Linked DNA regions of Homo sapiens. The protein of the gene in region 1 purifies or fractionates together with the protein of each later gene. This does not show direct contact. Each region holds a gene or a part of one and is shown on either strand. Other genes may lie near its edges.

Region 1 (7,028 bases):
CAAGTTTGGAGGGGAAATCAAGAGGATTTTAAGGATATGCTAAATTTGAGGTGTCTACAAGTAGATGAATAGTAAGCAGTTAGATGAGTGTGGAGTTCAGAGGAGAGGTCCAGGCTGGAGGTGTAAATGTGGGTGTCCTCAGCATAGAAGTGTTATTTAAAACCACTGGATTAGAGATCAGACAGACTGTGGCATGGATACAGAATACTAACCCCAAGGATACTCCCAATATTTAGAAATTAGGGAAATGAAAACAGCAAAGGAACTGGAAAAGTAACAGCCAACAAGGTTGGAGGAGGACCTGGAGAGAGTGGTACCCTGAAAACCAAATGGAGAAAAACAGTGTTTCAAGAAGAAAATGTCATTAGATGTGGATGAAATAAAATGAAGATCTGGGAACTATTGGGTTTAGCTAAGTCTTTGCTGACCTTGATAAAAACAATTCCAGTCAAGTGCTAGGGACAAAAACCCAACTGTAGTAAGTTCAAAAAGAATGGCCTGAATTTGATCAAGCCCTTGGATCCACTAGCAGTTTACAGGAAATTCAAAGGATTATGTTAAATTAAATTGTAAAGATGGAACCAGCAAAATCCAGATCGTGAAAAATTCTAAAAGGACAAACAGCCCATAAATTGCAGAGGAGAAAAACAAGGAGAGAAAACTTACCGATTAAGACACTTAAAAGACATATCGATCAATCACAATGTGTAGAACTTATTTGGATTTTGAATCAAAAATTTTTTTTAGGCTGGGCGTGGTGGCTCATGCCTGTAATCCCAGCACTCTGGGAGGCTGACGCGGGCGGATCACCTGAGGTCAGGAGTTCAAGACCAGCCTGGCCAACATGGTGAAACCCCGTCTCTACTAAAAATACAAAAATTAGCCGGGCGTCATGGCGCATGCCTGTAATCCCAGCTACTCAGGAGGCTGAGGCAGGAGAATCGCTTGAACCTGGGAGGTGAAGGTTGCAGTCAGCCAAGATCATGCCACTGAACTCCAGCCTGGGCAACAGAGTGAGACTGTATCTCAAAAAAAAAAAAATTTTTTTTTAAGGCAAACAGTTTAAAAAATAATATGTGAGACAAGTAAAAATTTGAACAATGATTAGAAATTTTTATAAGTGATTATTATTTTGCTGTGATAATGGTACTATATCATGAGTCCATAACTTTTATAGTTACTACTAAATATGAATAAAATCATATTATACCTAGAATATGCTTCAAAAATATAAAAGAGGGAAAAGTAGAAGAGAAGCGATTGGACGTGGGTTGATGACTGCGTTTGGGTGGTGGGTACAATAGAGTTTATTATACAGTTCTGCCTATATGTATACATCCTAAATTCTCTATAGTAAAATATCATAAAAAAGAGAGAAATGGCCATTTCCTTTGCATGTGTCATCTCTTCTTACTATCCCATTGTACAGATAAGAAAATTAAGGTTAAGGAAGATTAAATGCACTGCCCAAAGTAGCAGTTAACTTTTTCTGATAGACTATTTTAGGGAAGTTTTAGGTTCACAGCAAAATTGAACAGAAGGTAGAGATTTCCCATATGTCCCAGGCCTCCTGCCCTGACATACACACAGACACCCTACTATCAACATCCTCTACAAGAGGAGAACATTTGCACTCAAACCTATACCGACACATCATTAATAAATTTCAGTTAATTTAAGAGCCAGAATCTGTCTCTAAAACCCATGTTTTTTACACTATATCATACTGTCAATTTTTTTCTCCATGGTCATTACTTTACCTGGTGCTTTTTAAATAATTTGGCACAAAGCAAAATTCTGTTGCATGAATAAGCAATGAACAGAATTCTATAGATACTAATCAAGTTTAGTATCCAGAAAATATTCTGGATATTTTCATAATATCCAGAATATTATGAAATATTTACATTACATAATAATGTAAATTAGCAGATGAAACAATTCTGTCAATACAATGAATTATACTTCCAATGAAGCATATTTTAGTTATTTAACAAATACATACTGCCCACTAGAGTTGGAAATATAACTACACAGAAATACAAAGCACTATCTGGACTTTCTCCCTATATCAAACTTTTCTTTCAGCAGTTATTGTATGTACTGGATAATAACTAACCAAACTAAATTTCAAACATAAAACCATACATTTCCAAAGCATACATGTGTCCATGTTGTTCACTCATCTAGTAATCCAATGTGTACCAGTTGGAAAGTCTAAAGCTAAACAATAGCCTACAGCAAATGTGACTGATGAAAAAAAACAAGCAGTGAATAAATCAAAATCAACTATAACATATACTATAGCCAATTACTAACTTATAGATTTTCACTGGAAACATTTTCTTTAATATTCATGGAATACTGTTTCAATAATTCTACTTCTAACAATTTATCCAAAAGCAAGCACTGGACCAGTATACAAACACATATGTACTAGAATACTTACAAAGTTTTAGTCATAATAACAAAAAACTGGAAAAAATCTAAACCACTATCAATGAGACTGATCAATATACAGATAAAATTAAATGCTATGTACTCAGTATAAATTATTATACTATTATATAGATGTAAGTAATGATATGGGAAAGATACTTACGACACATTACTAAGTGGAAAAAGAAGGTTAGAAACAATTCGTATGATAAATATATGGACAGACGGATGGATGTCTGGGAAGATATACAAGAAAGAGTTAACAATGGTTTCATCTGGAGGATAGGATCATACTTTCATCTTCTATTTGAGACATTCTTATATCGTTTGTTTTTTAAAGTAATAAACATGTAGTTATTATTTTATAATTGGAAAAAGAATGCATTTTTGGGCCGGGCACAGTGGCTCATACCTGTAATCCCAGCACTTCAGTAGGCCAAGAAGGGTGGATCACCTGAGGTCAGGTCTGGTTCAAGACCAGCCTGACTAACATGGTGAAACCCCATCTCCACTAAAAATACAAAAATTAGCTGGACGTGGTGGCGGGCACCTGTAATCCCAGCTACTAGGGAGACTGAGGCAGGATAATTGCTTGAGCCCAGGAGGCGGAGGTTGCAGTGAGCCGAGATCATGCCATTGCACTCCAGCCTGGGCGACAGAGCAAGACTCCGTCTCAAAAAAAAAAAAAAAAAAGAATACATTTTTGTTTTGGAAAAAGAAATATATTGTGTTGATCTCAAAATCTGACTTAATGAAATGTCTCTGATTTTATACATGTTAAGTCTGCAAAGCTACGTAGTAAACAGCATGGAACTTCAGGAACCTCCTACCTGCTAATTCCACTTTTTCATTCAATGAATCTGTCCAAACATACCGCACTTATTATTAGGCTCATTACAATTAAATAATCACTTATAGAACATCCAGCCAGTTGAGGGTTAAGCTTATCAGGTGGCAGTATGGGAAACAATTTATTTCTTTTTTTGAGCAGAATCTCGCACTGTGGTCCAGGCTGGAGGGCAGTGGCACGATCTTGGCTCACTGCAACCTCCGCCTCCCAGGTTCAAGCAATTCTCTTGTCTCAGCTTCCCAAGTGGCTGAATTACAGGTGTACGCCACCATGCCCAGCTAATTTTTGTATTTTTAATAGAGATGGGGTTTCACCATGTTGGTTAGGCTGGTCTTGAACTCCTAACCTCATGATCTGCCTGCTTCAGCCTCCTAAAGTGCTGGGATTACAGGTGGGAGCCACCACATCCGGCTGGGAAACAATTTTTTTTTTTTTTTGAGTTGCCCAGGCTGGAGTGCAATGCCGTGACCTCAACTCACTGCAATGTCCACCTCCCATGTTCAAAGGATTCTCCTGCCTCAGCCTCCCGAGTAGCGGGTATTACAGGCACCCGCCACTATGCCCGGCTAATTTTTTGTATTTTTAGTAGAGACGAGGTTTCACCATTTTGGTCAGGCTAGTCTCGAACTCCTGACCTCAGCTGATCCACCTGCCTCGGCCTCCCAAAGCACTGAGATTACAGGAGTGAGAAACAATTTTTAAAAGGCATTTCCTCCCTTGAAAATAAAAGGGGACATTTCCCTTGTTATTAGTAAGAGCCCATTTTGCAATCTATTCTTTCATCATTTTTAAAGTTCACAGAAATACTATGTCTCTCTCATATTGTTAGAAGATTCAGAAATCAGTTAAAATACCAAGTATTAGTAATGACTCAAAAGTAGTATTATGTAAGCTTACAATTGAGAACACATTCTTGTAAAATTTCTTCTACAAATGAAAAACCTAAAAATATGGGTGGGCATGGTGGCTCACTCCTGCAATCCCAGCATTTTGGGAGGCTGAGGCAGGAGGATCATTTGAGCCTAGGAATTCAAGACCAGCCTGTGCAACATAGTAAGATCCCGTCTCTACAAAAAATATTTTTTTAATCTAAAAATGTCTCACATCAATAGACTGTAGATACCACGTTCTGATTTCCCAAGAACTTGACAATTTGGAAATGATGTATAAAATAACTGGCTGATGTAAAACAAGGAATTCTAGGGCAGGTGCAGTGGCTCATGCCTGTAATCCCAGCACTCTGGGAGGCCGAGGTGAGTGGACTACCTGAGGTCAGGAGTTCAAGACCAGCCTGGCCAACATGGTGAAATCCCATCTCTACTAAAAATACTGAGCCAAGATCACACCATTGCACTCTAGCCTGGGCGACGAGAGCAAAACTCTGTCTCAAACAAACAAACAAACAAAAAACAAGGAATTCTTCATTTCCTTAAACTGACATTTCAGACTAATGCACACTTTTTTTTATTATAACCAAACCACAAAATGCCCACATTTTAATGTATAAGAGAAAGCATCAGTTGTGTGACAAGGTTTTGCTGAATCTCAATAGTTGGTTTTTTTTTTTTAAGCAGTGGCTAGCCAAAGAAAGTCATTAATATTAACACAGATAATGGCAGAAAACCACAGAAACTCCAAATACAGAAAGGCTGTTCATGTATCCTAACAGCATAACCATTATGGCTGAAAAACCACACAATATTCTTTCTCACATCTGTTTTGTTAATGAGCCAAGAATGAGGGTCTATTCAGTATCCAAGACAACTGAATTAGAAGGTAGGAATGTCTGGTAAATGCTGTTCATCTCAACAGTCTGAGACTAAACAGGTCTGGAAAGGATACTGATCTTAAATAAATTATCTTTTTAGTTTTACCTTCCTGAAAACAGAATTATCACTTTGGTCTTTTTTCCCCTACCCATTAGCAACAACAAAAACTTATAAATTACTTTTTAAGATTCTAGTTTTAAGTACTATAAGATAATATGTTTTGTTAGATTAATAATATTTTAATTCACCTTTCAGGTAGATCCTCAAGTATTTTAAGAATATAGAAACCGATGTGAAACTAGATGGCTATATTATAAAGCAAAATGGTATTCAACTAGAATCCATCAGCTTAGACAATTTGGCAAGAAATCTACTCTGAGCCAGGGTTTTTCCATATACAACAGAGAATTCTTCCAGGAAATGTCCCCTTTACAGGGCCCCAGGCCTCTTTGCATACTGTCAGGCCAGGCAGTAACTAAAAAACGCAATGTTCCCATTGGAAGATATAAACTAATACAAATTAATTCTAAATTACCAACTTATTACATACAATTCTCCAAAAAAGCAAAATGAAGTAGCATGTAGATATCTTTTCATTCATTCTAATGGCTTTCCTAAATAACTTAATTCCTTAAGTTTTAAAAAACTAAACAGATTAGTTTAGAATTTGGTTTAAAAATGTAAAGAACGGTTATATGAGGCTGATAGAATCATGGGTAATTTTGTAAATGTCTTCATGTTAACTGAATTATATTTGAAGGTTATCTATATGTCTTTTCCCTTAAGTCTTTTTTTAGAAGGAAAAATTTATTTTATGTCTCAATTTTTGTTTTCCCTCGGAGTCCCTTCATTGAAAGAGAAATTCTAAACCAAATATCAAAACAATCTTGCACATTTTTATAAGTCCCACTGCCAGTCAAGTGCAATAAATATATTTTTTTTAAGTCATAATGGTCACTCCAGGGCAGCATAAGCCAAAATTTAAGTGACAACCCAGTAGAAAAACCTTTATCACTTTCAAAATTCATGCCCACAGACAGAGCAGTAATTTGATTTTTTTTCTTCAAGGCAAAGAACTACAAGTGAGAAAATTTATATAACGACAAAAACATTTCTCAAAGTTATTAAAGAAGATTGTTTTCTGGGAGGCCGAGGCAGGCAGATCACCTGAGGTCAGGAGTTCAAGACCAGCCTGGCCAACATGGTGAAACCCCGTCTCTACTAAAAATACAAAAAATTAGCCAGGCATGGTGGTGCGCGCCTGTAATCCCATCTACTCGGGAGGCTGAGACAAGAGAATCACTTGAACCCAGGAGGCAGAGGCTGCAGTGAGCCAATATCATGCCACTGCACTCCAGCCTAGGCGACAGAGCAAGCAAGACTCCATCTCAAAAAAAATAAATAAATAAAAAGAAGATTGTTTTAAATACTAAATTGGGACCCTGATGGCATTACATATTTTAGTAGGTATTTTTGACCCATAATTTTTATCTACATCATTCAAATCCCAATCTTGATTTAGTTCTAGCTTCCCATATATGCAACTTTTATTCCTTTGGAACTTGGTTCCAAATAACTTTTCTAAAACTTTTATTATTAAATAAACACAGAACTCTAAAACAACTATTTTCAGACATGAATTTAAAAGTGTAAATAAGAAAGAAACAGTCTATTCACTTTTGCAAGACTGTATAAAACTTCCACCAAACATCAAACAATTTGCATGTCATTAATTTAAGGTAAAAGTAAATGTTTTTCTTCCATTATAAAGTGTAGTTCCTCTGTCCTAAACGGTAGTCTAACATTACCTGAAAACATAGACTAGAATAGTATGGACCTAAAAAATGAGTACTCAGGAGAAGTAACATCATCAAGCATTTCTGCAGCTCCCTATTCCCACTTTATTTAGAACTGAAACATAACCTATACTCTTAGTTCAGCAGTAATTAGACCATAAAAAACGGTGTTTC
Region 2 (7,347 bases), on another chromosome or scaffold:
AAACTCCAAGTATAGAAAAAAGAACATTTGTATTTATATTACTTTCTTATGTTGTGTTTAAAAAAAAAAGATTTCTTAGAGGCTGTAATACTTCCAAATTTTCTTTTTAAAAACTTCATTATGGAAAATCTCAAATATATCCAAAAGTAGAGAGAACAGTATAATCAAGTGAATATACTCATCACCCATCTTCAACTGTTAACATAGTCAATTTTATCTCATTTATATTCTCATTCAGTCTCTCTTCCTTTCTGTCACAGAATTATATTAAAGCAAATCTCAGCTGTCTTCTCATCCAGTTCTGAAATAATTCTGTTCCTATCTCTAAAAGATAAGTAATCTTTTAAAAATATAACCGTAATCTACTTCCAACTTAAAAAAATCAAAATTTCTTATTATCAAATATCCAGTCAATAAAGATACCTAAGTCTAAGGAAAAAAAGTCAAATGTCAAGACAAACAGTACCCTGAAAGATGTAATACTCAAAAATGCAACAAAAAGGCAGCATTCTCCTAATGTAGAGAGCTGGAAATCAGGGTCTTTAATGGGGAAATCTAAGAATGGCATGCCAAATTTGTAACATGTGCACAAGAACAATTTTTCTTGGTTGATAGCATTCATCAGAATGTCAAGAAGCTTGAGATCCAAAACATTTAAAGACTTTCTGCCTCTGGTTATGATTGTGCGTGCTTAGTGCCACCTCACCTCACATTGCCAGGAAGGATTAGTCAAGTAGGAAAACAAATCCACCTAAAATAACTTAGAAATCAAACTGAATTCAACTCAGCTTGTACTGAGCATACACTAGGTGCAAGACACTGGGTTAAACCTGAGAAACAAAGATAAATTTGACCTAGTTAATGTATACTGTAGAATGAGAAGGGACCAAACAGATTAATAATAACTATAATAGAATGCGATGAGAAAGTGCTTGTTTTAGGTATTTTCATGGAGATTCAGATGAAGAAGCAATGATGTCAATTTAGGGGGGCGGTAAAAGAGGGGTCGCTAGAATCCATAAGAAGAGAGAATTAAAGGCTGCCAGCAATGATACCAGTAGCCATGTTGCATATCAATATCCTCCATGTACAAAGATTTTACTTATAACCCTTGCCAAGAGACATGAATAAATGTATTTACTAGCATGTATATTTCCCTTACTGGATAGAGAGGGAGAGATGAACACAAAAGCTGAAGAAAAGAGGTTTTGTTTAAATTGTGTCTGGAAAGTTGAATAGTTCATCAGATCTGGAGAGGAGATTCAGTGAAAAGGGAAGGGAAATCATTCAGAGGAGGAGAAAAGCAGGAACAAAGGGGTGGAAATTACCGGCAGGTTGGGGAACAAGCAGAGTGGTGACCTTAGAGCCCAGTGTGTGGGAGGGCCCAGATGACTGGAAATGCCTGCTGAGACCATGGATGGATTGGAACCTTCCAGGCCAGACCCAGCCCTCTATTCTGTGGCCAGCAGAGAGCCATTCAAAGAATGATGGGTGCTCAATGTTTATTGAACTGGTAGTTCCCTGAATTAGCTAGATGGAGACAGGTGAGAGAGAAGCAGGCTACTTAAGATGCATTGCAATAGCTCTAGAGTGGTAGATATGAGAGGACACATACAACATTTCAAACATTTCAGAAATCATTATTCCAATTCTGACTTGACACTTCCTAATATGGGATTGTGGGCAAATTATTTCCCTTACTTTCTGTCCTCTTATTTGCAAAGTGGGTATAATATTGGCTCATTCCTGGGTTGTCATAACACTAGAATAATTCTATGCAAAGCATCTGGTAGAATATCTAGCACAGACTAAATACTCAATATGAAGTAGCTATCTTATTATCAATAAAACTTCTTTGATGTGAATCTGTTTTAATATGCTCATTATCTAATCTTATCCCTACATTAAATATTTACACCATACAAAACTACTAATGTAATCAATCCATCTAATGAACAGTACCCATTATGAATCTGTTTCTAGAAATGTAAACTGAACATGATTTATTTGCATTTCTAGGTAGATGTTAGATTCTCTTTCAACGTTATTGTCTCTAAATTCACTGGTCATGTATTCAGAGAGCACTAAATACCAACCAAGTGTCATAAGGCATCAAGAAAATAGATAGTAAGCTGCTATCCTCGAGGAACTGACAACCCCAGTGAGACAAACAGGTGTGACCTTCAAGTAACCATGGCCCAGATTTGGCACAAGAGATGGAAATACTAGCAATGAAGTACCCAATTATGTGTATGCATCTGCTGGTAAGATGCTAAATCACATGTTCCAGGAGGTTACCACTCAACTGTTTTTTTAGGTTTGTGGGTTTCTTCCGCATGATACTATGTTATAAATCAATTGTAACTCTGAACTAACAGCATTACAAAAGATTGGTCACTCTCAGGAGCCTTACTACTTGCTTGAACAGCCACATCATTATTAAAGCATCATCCAACAAAAGTATCTTTGTTATACACTGAGATGAATAATTTCAAACCATTTTCATGTAAGATGTTCTGGCTCAGATCTGTCCCAGTCTTTAATGCTGAAGCTTTAGGGGGGAAAAACAGCTGGAGTTTAGGAAAGATTTTTGCTAAAGGCAGGAAATAATGATAAACATATTCCAGGAGATTTCAGATGTTAGTGAAAGCTTCACGCAAAATAAATGCCTAAGGCCAGAGGAAAATGCATTTCGCTTTTCGTATGGCGCTATGAGAAGAAACAGTGGTCCTGGGGATGCTTAACAAAAACCACCTACATAATTACTCAAATATTTCTCTTTGACACATACACGTCTCTTTGACACACATATTGAGAGAAACATCAATACTACTCTGTAGGGAAACAACAGTAAAACATAAACACTAATTTCCAAAGAAACTTTCATTGATGATGTAAATATAAATCTGCACCCTGGAGAAATGACTGATTCCCGCATTTTAGCAAGCAAATCTTATTCTGAAATACACACTTGTATTTACCCCCATCTACCTATGGTCGAAGCTCCAGGCTACATATTACAGTTGAATGAAGGTTGGATTAAGAGGCTAATCTAAGGCTATATATAGGCAGCAACACCAATTTAATCTCCGCCCTCTCCAACCTCCCCACCCTCCACTCCCTATTTCCATAAATCTCAAGATCTGAGTTACAAAGAGAACCGAGAACTCTAGCAGAGCAAAGAAGCCCTTCCTTCCCCCTCCCACAGGCTGTCTCTCATAAACGAAGTATTAGTGCAAGTGTAAATTGTTTCCAAACATCTTTAACAAGCAACATTGGGCGATCAGGTTTTCTTCTACAGCTTCCACAGAGGCCAAAGAGATGACAAGTAGTGGGGAGGGCGAGGATCACCAGCGTAAAAACTACCTTCTCCCGAGTCTGTTCTCACTGACTCGCTAGTAATGGGGCGCTGTCCTTGCGACCCCTACCTAGCCCAGAGCCCCGGCCCCAGCCTCCCCGGGAGCCGCATCTGGCGGTGCCACGCACGAGACCATGTGCACCCGCCACTTCCCACCGCGTGGCTGGCCCCCGCCCGCCCGCCCGCGGTCCCAGGGTCTCCCGAGGCGGCCAAACGTTGCGAGTCGGAGGTCTTCATCCCAGGGCACTGATACCCCGTACGCGCCGTGATGATGAGGTGGAGCGGGGGCTTCTCCACCGCGAGGCAGGAAGCCGCCCCAGGAGGCACATGCTTCCTCCCCGCCAGCTCCTGCCCGATGGAAACCCCGGCGGGGCGGCAGTCGCTACTCTCGCAACCCTCACGGCGCCCCTTGCCTCACCTGGGCTGCTTCTCACCTGTCCGAGGAGGTAGCGACGACGCGCAAGGCTGGGGGCTGCGGCGATTCGTGCAGCAGCAGCGGCAGCAGCAGCAGCAGCAGCAGTGGCGGCAGACAATGGAGGAGTGAAGGACAGACACATTGACATAGACACACGGAACCCGGCGCAGCCCCGCCTCCCGTACCGCCCCCGTCTCCTAGACCGCCCCCGCCCAGACTGCGCCACTCCCGGGGGAATGGTGGGGGTACGGCGACAACCTGGGGCCTCTGCATGCCCCAGAAAGCCGTCGCTGAGCACATAACTGCCAGCTGTAGAATTTTCAATATTACATGTGGCGAAATATTTGAACCGGACAGGATAGGGGAGCGGAACGTGTAGGAGGAATTTAATTCCCCCCTCCAGCTTTCTGCATTTGGTTTTGTCCTCCCAGGTTGCTCCAATGGCGATCTCTCGCTACCGCCTCCTGCGGCTCCTCCTCCTCGGCAGGGCCAATGACAGGCGGCAGGCGGTGACCGCCGCAGGGCCTGCGGAGACCGTCCGCCTGGCTCGCCCGAGCTCGCCCGCTGTCCGCCAGCCCGCGGGAGGGAGGAGAGAAGCGAAGCGTTTCCGCGGTTGGCTACTCAGTGTCTTGGTCTCAAGTTGCCTCATTGCGGCTGGCGTTCCCAATACAGACGCATCGTTTCTTTTTTAATACTCCCTAAGAAAGGGAATAACCTTCAAGCTGGCGGGAGCAATGGTTCACATAAAGAAAGGCGAGCTGACCCAGGAGGAGAAGGAGCTACTGGAAGTCATCGGGAAAGGTACGGGTGCTGGGCTGCGACGCGGCCGCGGCCAGCCTGGCCGGGGGGCGTGGCGGAGCCCGGGGGGCGCTCCTGGCCTGGGTGACCTTTGGCTGCGGTTCTGCAAGGTTTGCAGCCTGGAACCGGGAAAGAGCGTTTCTCCCTTTGGTCTGGGAAAGGTTGCAGGGGCGGAGAGGTGGGGAGGCAGAAGCAGTGCTGGGACAAGAGGGGTAGTTACAGAGGCTCGGCCTCTAAATCCGCTTTTGGAAACGTACGGATTTCCACGCCCCGCCTTAGGTTAATGCGAGCTTCCCGGGGTGTGGACCCCAGTGTGTGAATTCTTCACTGCTCCCGAGGGATTTTGACCGCGGTCAGTCCTGGTAGTTTCAGGTTCTTAGGCGGGTGTCTAAATGACCCTTTAGACTTCCGCAGGCCGAATGATCTGGATCCTTTGCCGATCCCCGCCCCCGCTTGGGAGTGGAGGGCGCCCTTAGGGAGAGGGGTTCTTCATAAGGGTACAGAACTAGGTCTGTAATTTGCTGCATTGAGACTTCCGTATCCAGGGCCTCCCTGGCTTCCAGAAGCCCCGACAGCCTCAGGAACCCTAGAGAGACAAGGAAATTGGCGAGGCCTCCACACCCACCCCTCGGCCCACGTTGCACAGATGAGACCTTCTAATCGCGCTCCTTCGCGCTTTCTTGTCCACTCCCCCAAGGCGTGCCCCACTTCCGCAGTGCTGAGTCCCAGCGGGGAGCCCCGAGGACGAGCCAGAAGCCATATTTCCCCGGAGTCCCCGAGTGGACGTCCCAGAGGAGTTCCCTGCCGAGTCCCGTTACCTGGCAGGTGACATCAGCGTGACTGCATGCTTCTTCTGCACCCTCACGGTGCAGGGATGGTGATGCGTGCGACTCCGGGCAATTAATGTGGTGATTTTAAACTCAATAATAATATAGCCATGTTTGTCCTCGAATGGCAGAGATGCCAGTCATTGCAGCATAAGGCTTCCCAGTTTCCAGTTTTATTTACTTAGTAGCCAGGCTGAAATGTGGAATCCTAGAGAATAAGGCAGATTTATTCTTCATAGCGACAAGGAAACTCCACATGCGAAGGAGAAAAAATTCCGGTTTGAACTCAACAGGTGCTGATGAGCTGAGCCCACCCGATCTGATCTCAACTATTCTAAGTCAGTCACAGCTATATCTATCAATGATGTGTTCTTTGCCTGGAATTTGGGGATTTGGGTTAGAGTTTAGATTGTTGTACTGCATGGTTCTTGCTGACCTATTTGGCATTTCAGTCTTTCAGTTCTTCCTGTCTCTAGGTAATTTCTCCCTGCCTTTGATGGCTCTGGGATTCAATTAAGCAAACATGCAAGTTCTAGCTGTGTGCCAGGTACTGTGCTGGGCAAAAAGGAGACAAAGGATCAATTCACAATCCACCAGGGACAAAAATTCTTTTAGGCAGGACAGAGCTAGTACATGTCCTCTCTCTCTCTCGCTCTCGCTGTCTCTTTCTCTCTCTCTCTCGTTTGTTTGAGACAGGATCTCACTCTTCACCCAGGCTGGAGTTGCAGCTCTCTGCAGCCTCCACCTCCCTAGTGGCTGGGACTACAGGTGCGAGCCACCATGCCCGGCTACTTTAGAAAGATTTTTTTTTTTTTTTTGTAGAGATGGGGTGGTGGGGGTCTCCCTATGTTGCCCAGGCTGCTCTCGAACTCCTGGGCTCAAGTGATCCTCCTGCCTCGGCCTCCCTAAGTGCTGGGATTACAGGCATGAGCCACTGGGCCTGGCCCATCATGTGATCTCTTAAAAGTGAAAAATAGTGAGCAGTTTTATAAATTGAGTCTTTGAGAGGGGAGAAGGGATTCCTTGGATACATTCTCAGGTGTCCATCAGTATTTATTTTGAAGATTATATAAACCTGAATTAATGTGCATTTATTCTGGTTAGTGCTGTGATATTTCTGGGCTCACACGGTGCATCAAGTTGCATGAGTGCACTGATGCTTTCATCGCTTTCATTGGACCATGCCAATGAGAAAAGAACTGATGTGGACCTAGTATGTGATGCATTCTTGTCAAATGAAGGTCTGTGGGACATCACTTGCACTCATAAAGAAAAGTAATGGGAGATATGAGAAAAACAACCATAGCCAACGTTTATTGACTGTTATTGCAAGCCACACATAATTTTAAGTACTTTACATATATTAATGCATTTAATTTGGATGAGCTAGGAATTAATTTTAAGCTATGACAGTATGAGAGACAGCATGGGATAGTGGTTAACCATGCAGGTCTGGTTTGAAATTCTAACTCATTTACTGGTGATGTGGCCTTTGGGCAAGTGACTTTTCCTGAGCCTCAAGTCCTCTGTGTGAAAAATAGGAATAATAATAATACCCACCTCACAACGTTGTTATGGGGATGAAAGTAGTTAGTATAGTTAAAGCATTCGAAATACTGCTTGTGTTTGTGATAAATATAGTAATCTTCACTTTATAGGCAAGGCAACTGAGGAACTGGGAAGTTAGGAAACTTAGTGTCAAACAGGTAAGTGGCAGAAAGTGGCAGAGCAGAGGTATCACAGGGCCCATAGGTAATAAACAGGCTGTACCTAAAAACAAACTAAACAAAACATGAAACAGTACCATAGCAGTCCATACAATATTCACTTTGAGAGGTCATTTAGTTCTAGCAAAACAACATCTGTCAAGTTAACTCAGTTTTAAATGTTACTGATTTTGTAGTTCTGTGTGCATTAAATTTAAAGTAAATTTTTATTTTATAGTTGAA
Region 3 (7,028 bases), on another chromosome or scaffold:
GTCAAGGATTACTCCAGGATTTAGGCTGTTGAGATGGTTAGGGCAATTTATTGCCTACACTAAATATTTTCTTTTCTTTCTTTTTTTTTTTCTCTCTTTTCCCTCAGTGTCAAGCTATCAACTTGTGTTTGTTATTGCTGTTATTGTATCTGCTTCTAGTTTCGCTCACCTATTTTAGGATATATTACTTTTGTTTAAATCTTCTGTGGGCCAAAAAACACAAAAGTTTTAAAAATTGTATATTTAAAATAAGATTGTTGGTTTAACATAGGGCCTCTGAGTGAGAGTTTGTGTTGTTGTATTTAGGAGTAAAGTGAATCAGCCTTAATGCCAGGACTTCTAACAGTTGCATTCCCTGTGGAGGCCTTAAGCTTGCTTTTGAATTCAGTTATGTTGTTAATGATTAAGTTTGCCAGAACTCTAAATCTCTGAATGAGAATTCATTTATATTTACTTTATTTGTTTAAACAGGCAAAAGAATGGACCCCAGCAGGAAAAGCAAAGCAAGAGAATTCTGCTAAGAAGTTTTATTCTGAATCTGAGGAAGAGGAGGACTCTTCTGATAGTAGCAGTGACAGTGGTGGGTTTTATAATTTATTGGCATATATTATTTACATAGTAGATTACATTCTATATCTCAGAAACAAGGCCTAATCCATAATATTCAGCAGGTAGTTTTAAGTGAAGTTTGTATTATCAAAATAATCCCTTTCATTTATATATCACTCTTTAGTTTTCAAAGTAATTTTTAATTACTAAATTCTCTTTTTACTTTACAATATCTCTTGGATAGTAGCTGATACATTGGTATAGCTGAAACAGGAACTCATACTTTTCTGAATTCTAAACCACAATGCCTAATATATCTATTGAAAAACATAATTTTACACTTGATGAACTTTTAGTGGGGTCTTTAAAAGTAACTTTCTTTTACAAAAACGTAAAGTTTATTTTATACCTTGAAGAGTCTTTTTCTCTTTCATTTTATACTTATCTCTTTCTGTGAACCTCTATAGAGATAAAGCTAAAATTATTAAGTCTCTATATACTATAAAAAAATCAAACTAAAGGTTGAGGGTAACTATATGCAGTGAAAAGAATGCTTAATAGGAAGGATTTAGAGGCCCTGGCTTTTACCTATGCAAATTGAATAAGGCACCTACTTTTCTCTATATCAGATAAATGAAGGGGTACAGTTAAATATTTCTTAAAGTCCCTTCATTGCTAAAATTCTGTGAGTGATTTGCATAATGAAAAATAGATTGTAGTCACTTTCTGATGCTCTTATTAACACTTAAGCTAATAGGCAAATCTGACCCAAGACCAAACGACACCCAACTTTCTCTAAAATCTTTATTCCTTGGAGAACCAGGGCCTGTCACTCTTACATGGTTATCTGCTACCCTACTGTAAGGTAATTCACTCTTCTTTTCTCTGTCTTCCTTATCAAAAATCTTTGTTTTTAGTATCTGATAAATTAATCTGTGATACATTACCTGTAATTTCTTTCATTGTTTATAGCATAAGCCAGTTATCTGACTTAATATGTATGTGCGTGTAACTTGGATATTACCACAAATCTAAAATGTCCTTATTTAGTAGCTTTATTTTAGTAAAATAAACTTTCCTGTTTGTAAATGATGATAATGATGAGTGCCTTACCCTGTGGCAGACCCTGTTGTGTTCTAATCTCCTTTGTATGTTTCAAATCATTTAATCTTCACAACAGCTCTGAAAAGTAACTAGTGTTATCCCCATTTGCTGAAAAGGAAACCAAAACCCAGAGAAGTTGAATAACTTGTTCAGTTTTACAACTGGCAAGTAGAAGAGCCAGGATCTGAATCCGAACACTAACTTGAGAACCCATGCTTGTACCCCTTGTAAGCCGTCTTAAAACAATACAGGCAGTCCTAGGTTTTCACTGTGATGGACCTTCCTGATGTTGGTATTATTTAACCATTAGAATGTTTAATTAAAGGTTATGTTCCTGCCTAAGAGGGCTTCGTTACATAGATCACAGGCAGGGCAACAGTTTGTCCTTTTGTCTGGGACACAACTCTGTAGTTATAGTCATTTTAAATAGTAAAAATTATGCTTCACTTAAAAAATACACATATATTCTTCATGTATTCTCTTCTGCGAACAGTCCTAGCATACCATAATTTACACATAAAACATTTAAAAGTATAATTCCTCAGTGTAACTTGATCATCTCTTTGACCTATGGAAAACTCGTTTACTAGCTCGAATAAGTAATAACTCTTTAATTAGTCATTTTGCCTATTGTCTTTGAATTTGGAGGTCTTTCCAAGTGATTTGAATGGCTCATTTTCCTCTCAAAATTTGTTCCTAAGAAGATTCAACTGTTGCCTTCTTTTACTCTAAATAGAATTTCCCATTACAAGCAGAAGAATTCAAAATTATTTCTTTAGCCTTACATCAATCCTTACGTAATTCTTTAAAAGAAAGTTTTTGACATAGCTATATACTTTGGGGTTTGAAGTGAGATTCCCTCAAATTTGGTTTACTTGGTTCACCTTTGCTTAGCTTTTCTCTCCTCGTTGTCAGAGCATCCTCTGTCTGCCTCCCTCCAAGCTCACAGTGCTAAAGGAATCCATAGAGCTGAAAGAATGGGGTGTGGGAATAAAATGTTAAACAAGTGGTGTCCACTGAACTAAAATTCAACATCTGGTTTCATTTGTGATGAATATTGACAGTTACAGGTGTCCGTGTGTCTAATTAAATGACTATAAATCTAAGAACATCTGGTTCTGTTTTTCAGAGAGTGAATCTGGAAGTGAAAGTGGAGAACAAGGCGAAAGTGGGGAGGAAGGAGACAGCAATGAGGACAGCAGTGAGGACTCCTCCAGTGAGCAGGACAGTGAGAGTGGACGGGAGTCAGGCCTAGAAAACAAAAGAACAGCCAAGAGGAACTCAAAAGCCAAAGGAAAAAGGTAACTTATTTTGTCAGAATTTCCTTCAAAAAATATTCTGTGAAAGTTTGCCCCAGGCAGAGATGTTTCTTATTAATCAAAAAATGGTGAGAGAAAAAAAGTGTGTATTTTTTTCCAGATATTAAATCTTTTTAAAATTAAAGTGCTAGTTGTTCACATTATTTTCCTACTTGTAATGCTTAGCTTTCATTTTGAACTTGAACATATCTTGGGGTTACATTTTGAAAATTGGTATAACCTTGGAAGGCTGAGTTAAGTGATCAAGCAATAGGTATGAAACACTTAATTACCTTTTGTAGCGATTTTGCTGAGGGCTAAAATTAAATCCTTCAACACTTTGCCATTATGTAACCAAGACAATTGATTTTTCTAAATAATGTTATATTAAAAAGATTATGATCCAAATATTAGAGTCAAGGGCTGTGAAGGAAGACGGTCATAAGATCTTTAAGTGTTAGCACTTTTTAAGATCTCCCATTATCAATAACATTATCATGTATTAAAGTGTCATTAAAATTTTGAGTAATTGGGTCTAATATCTTGGATTGTGCAACTCTGTTTTCCCCGCTGCTGTCAGCGAGTGGCCTCTGCCGACATGATGGTCCTTTCCCCGGGAGCCTGCTGCCCGCTCACTTGATGAGCTTGCAGCCCGGCTCAGTCGTGGCTGACAGCACTGATTGGGGCGCAGTACGCTCTCTGCTCCTTTTATTACAGACAGTAATTAAAGCAGCTCTCCCTGCCACTTCCATAACAAACACAGCATAATGCCCTAATTATGACTTTATTAATTTAAGTCAGGATTTAATGATTTTAAAAGTGATTTATATTGTTTTTCCTGTTCAGAACAAATGAAATCTGTAGGTTAAATTAATACAGGCTTTTCATCATTGCAAAGTTAAAAACCTAGTTACCAGTAAATTCTTTTCATTAGATTAACATCTGAAACTCTAAGCAGTAAGGTAAACAATAATTACCATCAAAATTGAGTGATGCATAATAAAATAACACTTTTACTTTTAAAATCTTATCTTAAAAGCTAGAAGTTGAATATATTTAGAATCATTCACTTGTTGCAGCAAAGGAGCTACTTGGTTTATAATAGCCTTGTCTTTGAGAGAAATCCTGTACTTCTGCTTTAATATCAGCATGTCTATGATGATACGAGTTATAAAACATGTCCTGTTTCTAGAAAGGGAAAGTTTTGTTCAGTGCATGAAATGTCCTTTCAGATGGCAAAAGTCAGTATACTCAAAATTTGTAGTCATGTATTAGGTTTATTATTCTTTTCTTCAGAAATGGATTTTTCTCTTTACCCATGTTTGAATTTAAAAGAATTGTTTATTACAAAGAGAACCACAAATACATTCTAAACCTTATATTTTTAAGTACACATTTTAACCAGTGAATTGGGGATAATAAATTGCCATTTTTTTGCCAGGGAAAAACAACAACATATTTTTCAGTCTTCAAATATAATTACATGTGCTCTGAGATGTTACCATGGCTCCATTTTTAATAAATAGCAATCATATTTCCTCCACAAAAATCAATTCTAGGAAATATTGATTCTTTCCTTGTCTCACTCCTCTCCCTCCCCCTGTATTTTTCTGTCTCAGAATTTTTTTTAACTTTGCCAGTATGATAATTTTTTAAAGCTCCTAATAAGCTTTAAACATCTTCAAAAACCACCCTTTAGTAATCATAAATATTTATGACCAAATTTAAATTTTACACTCCAAGGTATTTTCATTTGAAGGGAGATAGTATGACATAGTGGAAAAAATACGGACTTTGGAATGAGACAGGCTTGAGTTCAGATTCTAGTTCTGCCCCTCTTGTTATGTGCCCTTGAGCAGGTTATTTAACCTTTCTAAATATTAATTTCATTATTGTAAATGGGATAATAATGTACCCAGGAAGAGTGCATTTAAATTAGATAATTAGTATGATTGGTATGAAGTGCCTAGCCCTTTCTGGCCCACAGTAGATTCTTAAAAAAATACACACACATGTGGTAGAGAGAACTAGACCTTTAGTTTCCAGGAAAATATAAAGCACCACAAGGCATTTGTCATCCCCTGAGAGAAGGGTGTTTGGTCATCTCACATGTTATTCCTTCTCCTTGGAGAACTGTTTCCCTGCCCATCTGCCAGCCTTACTCCTATATCTTGGCTTATATGTCTCTTTCTCCAGGAAGCATTCCTAATTGGATCAAGTTTTTTTAGGTGTCTCTCCACATGTTCTCCTGACACGCTATAATTTATTACTTATTACTTATTATACTGTATTATCACTGCAACCTTATCTGTATCCTCCAGTGGACCGTAGACCCTGTAGGGTAGACACACAGAGATCCTCTGTGTCTTACTAACCATCGTTATCCTTAGCACCTAGCATAATGCCAACATGTAGTCAATAATTAATAAATATTTGTTGAGCAGGTGAACAAATGAATGGTGTTAAGCACTTAGGTATGATCATTTGATATTTTAAAAGTTTATATTTGATTAGCTTAAATTTTTAGCAAGATAGTACTTTAGAAGAATTTCCTTTGAACTGGTTAACATTTTCTCATAGAATGTGTTTAAGGTCACATTTGGGAACTTGTGTAAGTAATTTTCTTGGGTAGAAAATGTATAAAATACAAGTCTATTTTAGCAGAAGTAGATATATAAATATTTAAATATATTACTAAACCAGGTGTGGTGGCTCAAGCCTATAATCCCAATATTTTGGGAGGTCAAGTTGGGAGGACTACTCGAGCCCAGAAGTTCCAGACCAGCCTAGGCAACCTAGTGAGACCCTGTCTCTACAAAAAATATAAAATTAGCTGGATGTGGTGGTGCATGCCTGTAGTCCCAACTACTTGGGAGGCTGAAATGGGAGCATCGCTTGAGCCCGGGAGGTCAAGGCTGCAGTGAGCCGTGATTGCACCACTGTACAATGAGACCCTGTCTCATATACGTATATATATACGTATATATACATGAATATATATGTATATACGTATATATATACATGTATGTATACATACATACACACACACACACACACACACACACACACAGGCACAGTATTTTGAGATAGCGTTTTAAAAAATCAGCCTAAATATCTTTAACGTTGTTACTGGTAGTACTTAATTCTTGGTAAATCAAACATTTAATGTTTTCTACATTGCTTTTGATTATATTGTTTAGTGTCATTTTATGACTTTTTGCATTTGAAATTTGTATGACAGGATAGAATTGAATTTGAATGGGTTCTAATTTATTTGGTTATGGGTAATACCTTTTTTATTACCTCATTAATGTATTCTGGAATTTAAAAACAATTTTTTTATAAACTGCTTATATAAAGGAGTTAAAGTTCATATTTCAAAATTTACTATTATGTGTAGTGATTCTGAAGATGGGGAGAAGGAAAATGAAAAATCTAAAACTTCAGATTCTTCAAATGACGAATCTAGTTCAATAGAAGACAGTTCTTCCGATTCTGAATCAGAGTCAGAACCTGAAAGTGAATCTGAATCCAGAAGAGTCACTAAGGTAAGAGATTATACATTTGTTGTAATTGAAGGTAAATATTCTTATAGCAACTAAAATAGACAACACCATCCTCATCTACTCCTGTGATTTTATTTTTTCTAGATAAGCCTTTCCCTTATAACCCAACTCTGCAGAAATGCTAGAAACTTTAAAAAATCTCATCCCTTGCCACTGAAATCAAGGAACTCTTACGCATATGACCTTTTTTGTTCTTGGCTAGGTTGTGACAAGGGGGGGGTTTTGCTGAAGGGGAAGTGAAAGGAAGTCACAAAAATAGTATTGAGCAAAGAATTATAAGTGTACATACATCATAAGAAATTGAGACTATTCACTTTTTAAAAATATTGGGCATTTTGCATAATAGAGTGTGTTTTAAGGCTTCAATTAAAGAGTATACATTCTTTAGTTAGTAAGAATTTGCGTAGCCATTTATTTAAAAACAAATGGAACCACTTATATAATAAAATAATAATGCTTTTTGGTAATAACATTTTTAACACTGAATTTTGCCTGCTTAGCAGGAAAAAAA

The links. The genes of interacting proteins can lie anywhere in the genome.
Region 2: the proteins of AGO3 (region 1) and ANKMY2 purify together in Homo sapiens (affinity purification with mass spectrometry; 3 studies listed by BioGRID and IntAct, with this or other methods). This does not show direct contact.
Region 3: the proteins of AGO3 (region 1) and AP3B1 purify together in Homo sapiens (affinity purification with mass spectrometry; 3 studies listed by BioGRID and IntAct, with this or other methods). This does not show direct contact.

The regions. Positions count from the first base shown.
Region 1 is NC_000001.11:35,934,085-35,941,112, reverse strand, and holds part of AGO3 (protein argonaute-3), read right to left. Parts: intron 1-7,028.
Region 2 is NC_000007.14:16,642,734-16,650,080, reverse strand, and holds the start of ANKMY2 (ankyrin repeat and MYND domain-containing protein 2), read left to right. Parts: upstream 1-4,326; 5' UTR 4,327-4,507; coding exon 4,508-4,574; intron 4,575-7,347. UniProt on the Homo sapiens protein: May be involved in the trafficking of signaling proteins to the cilia.
Region 3 is NC_000005.10:78,109,678-78,116,705, reverse strand, and holds part of AP3B1 (AP-3 complex subunit beta-1), read left to right. Parts: intron 1-471; coding exon 472-580; intron 581-2,782; coding exon 2,783-2,954; intron 2,955-6,351; coding exon 6,352-6,499; intron 6,500-7,028. UniProt on the Homo sapiens protein: Subunit of non-clathrin- and clathrin-associated adaptor protein complex 3 (AP-3) that plays a role in protein sorting in the late-Golgi/trans-Golgi network (TGN) and/or endosomes.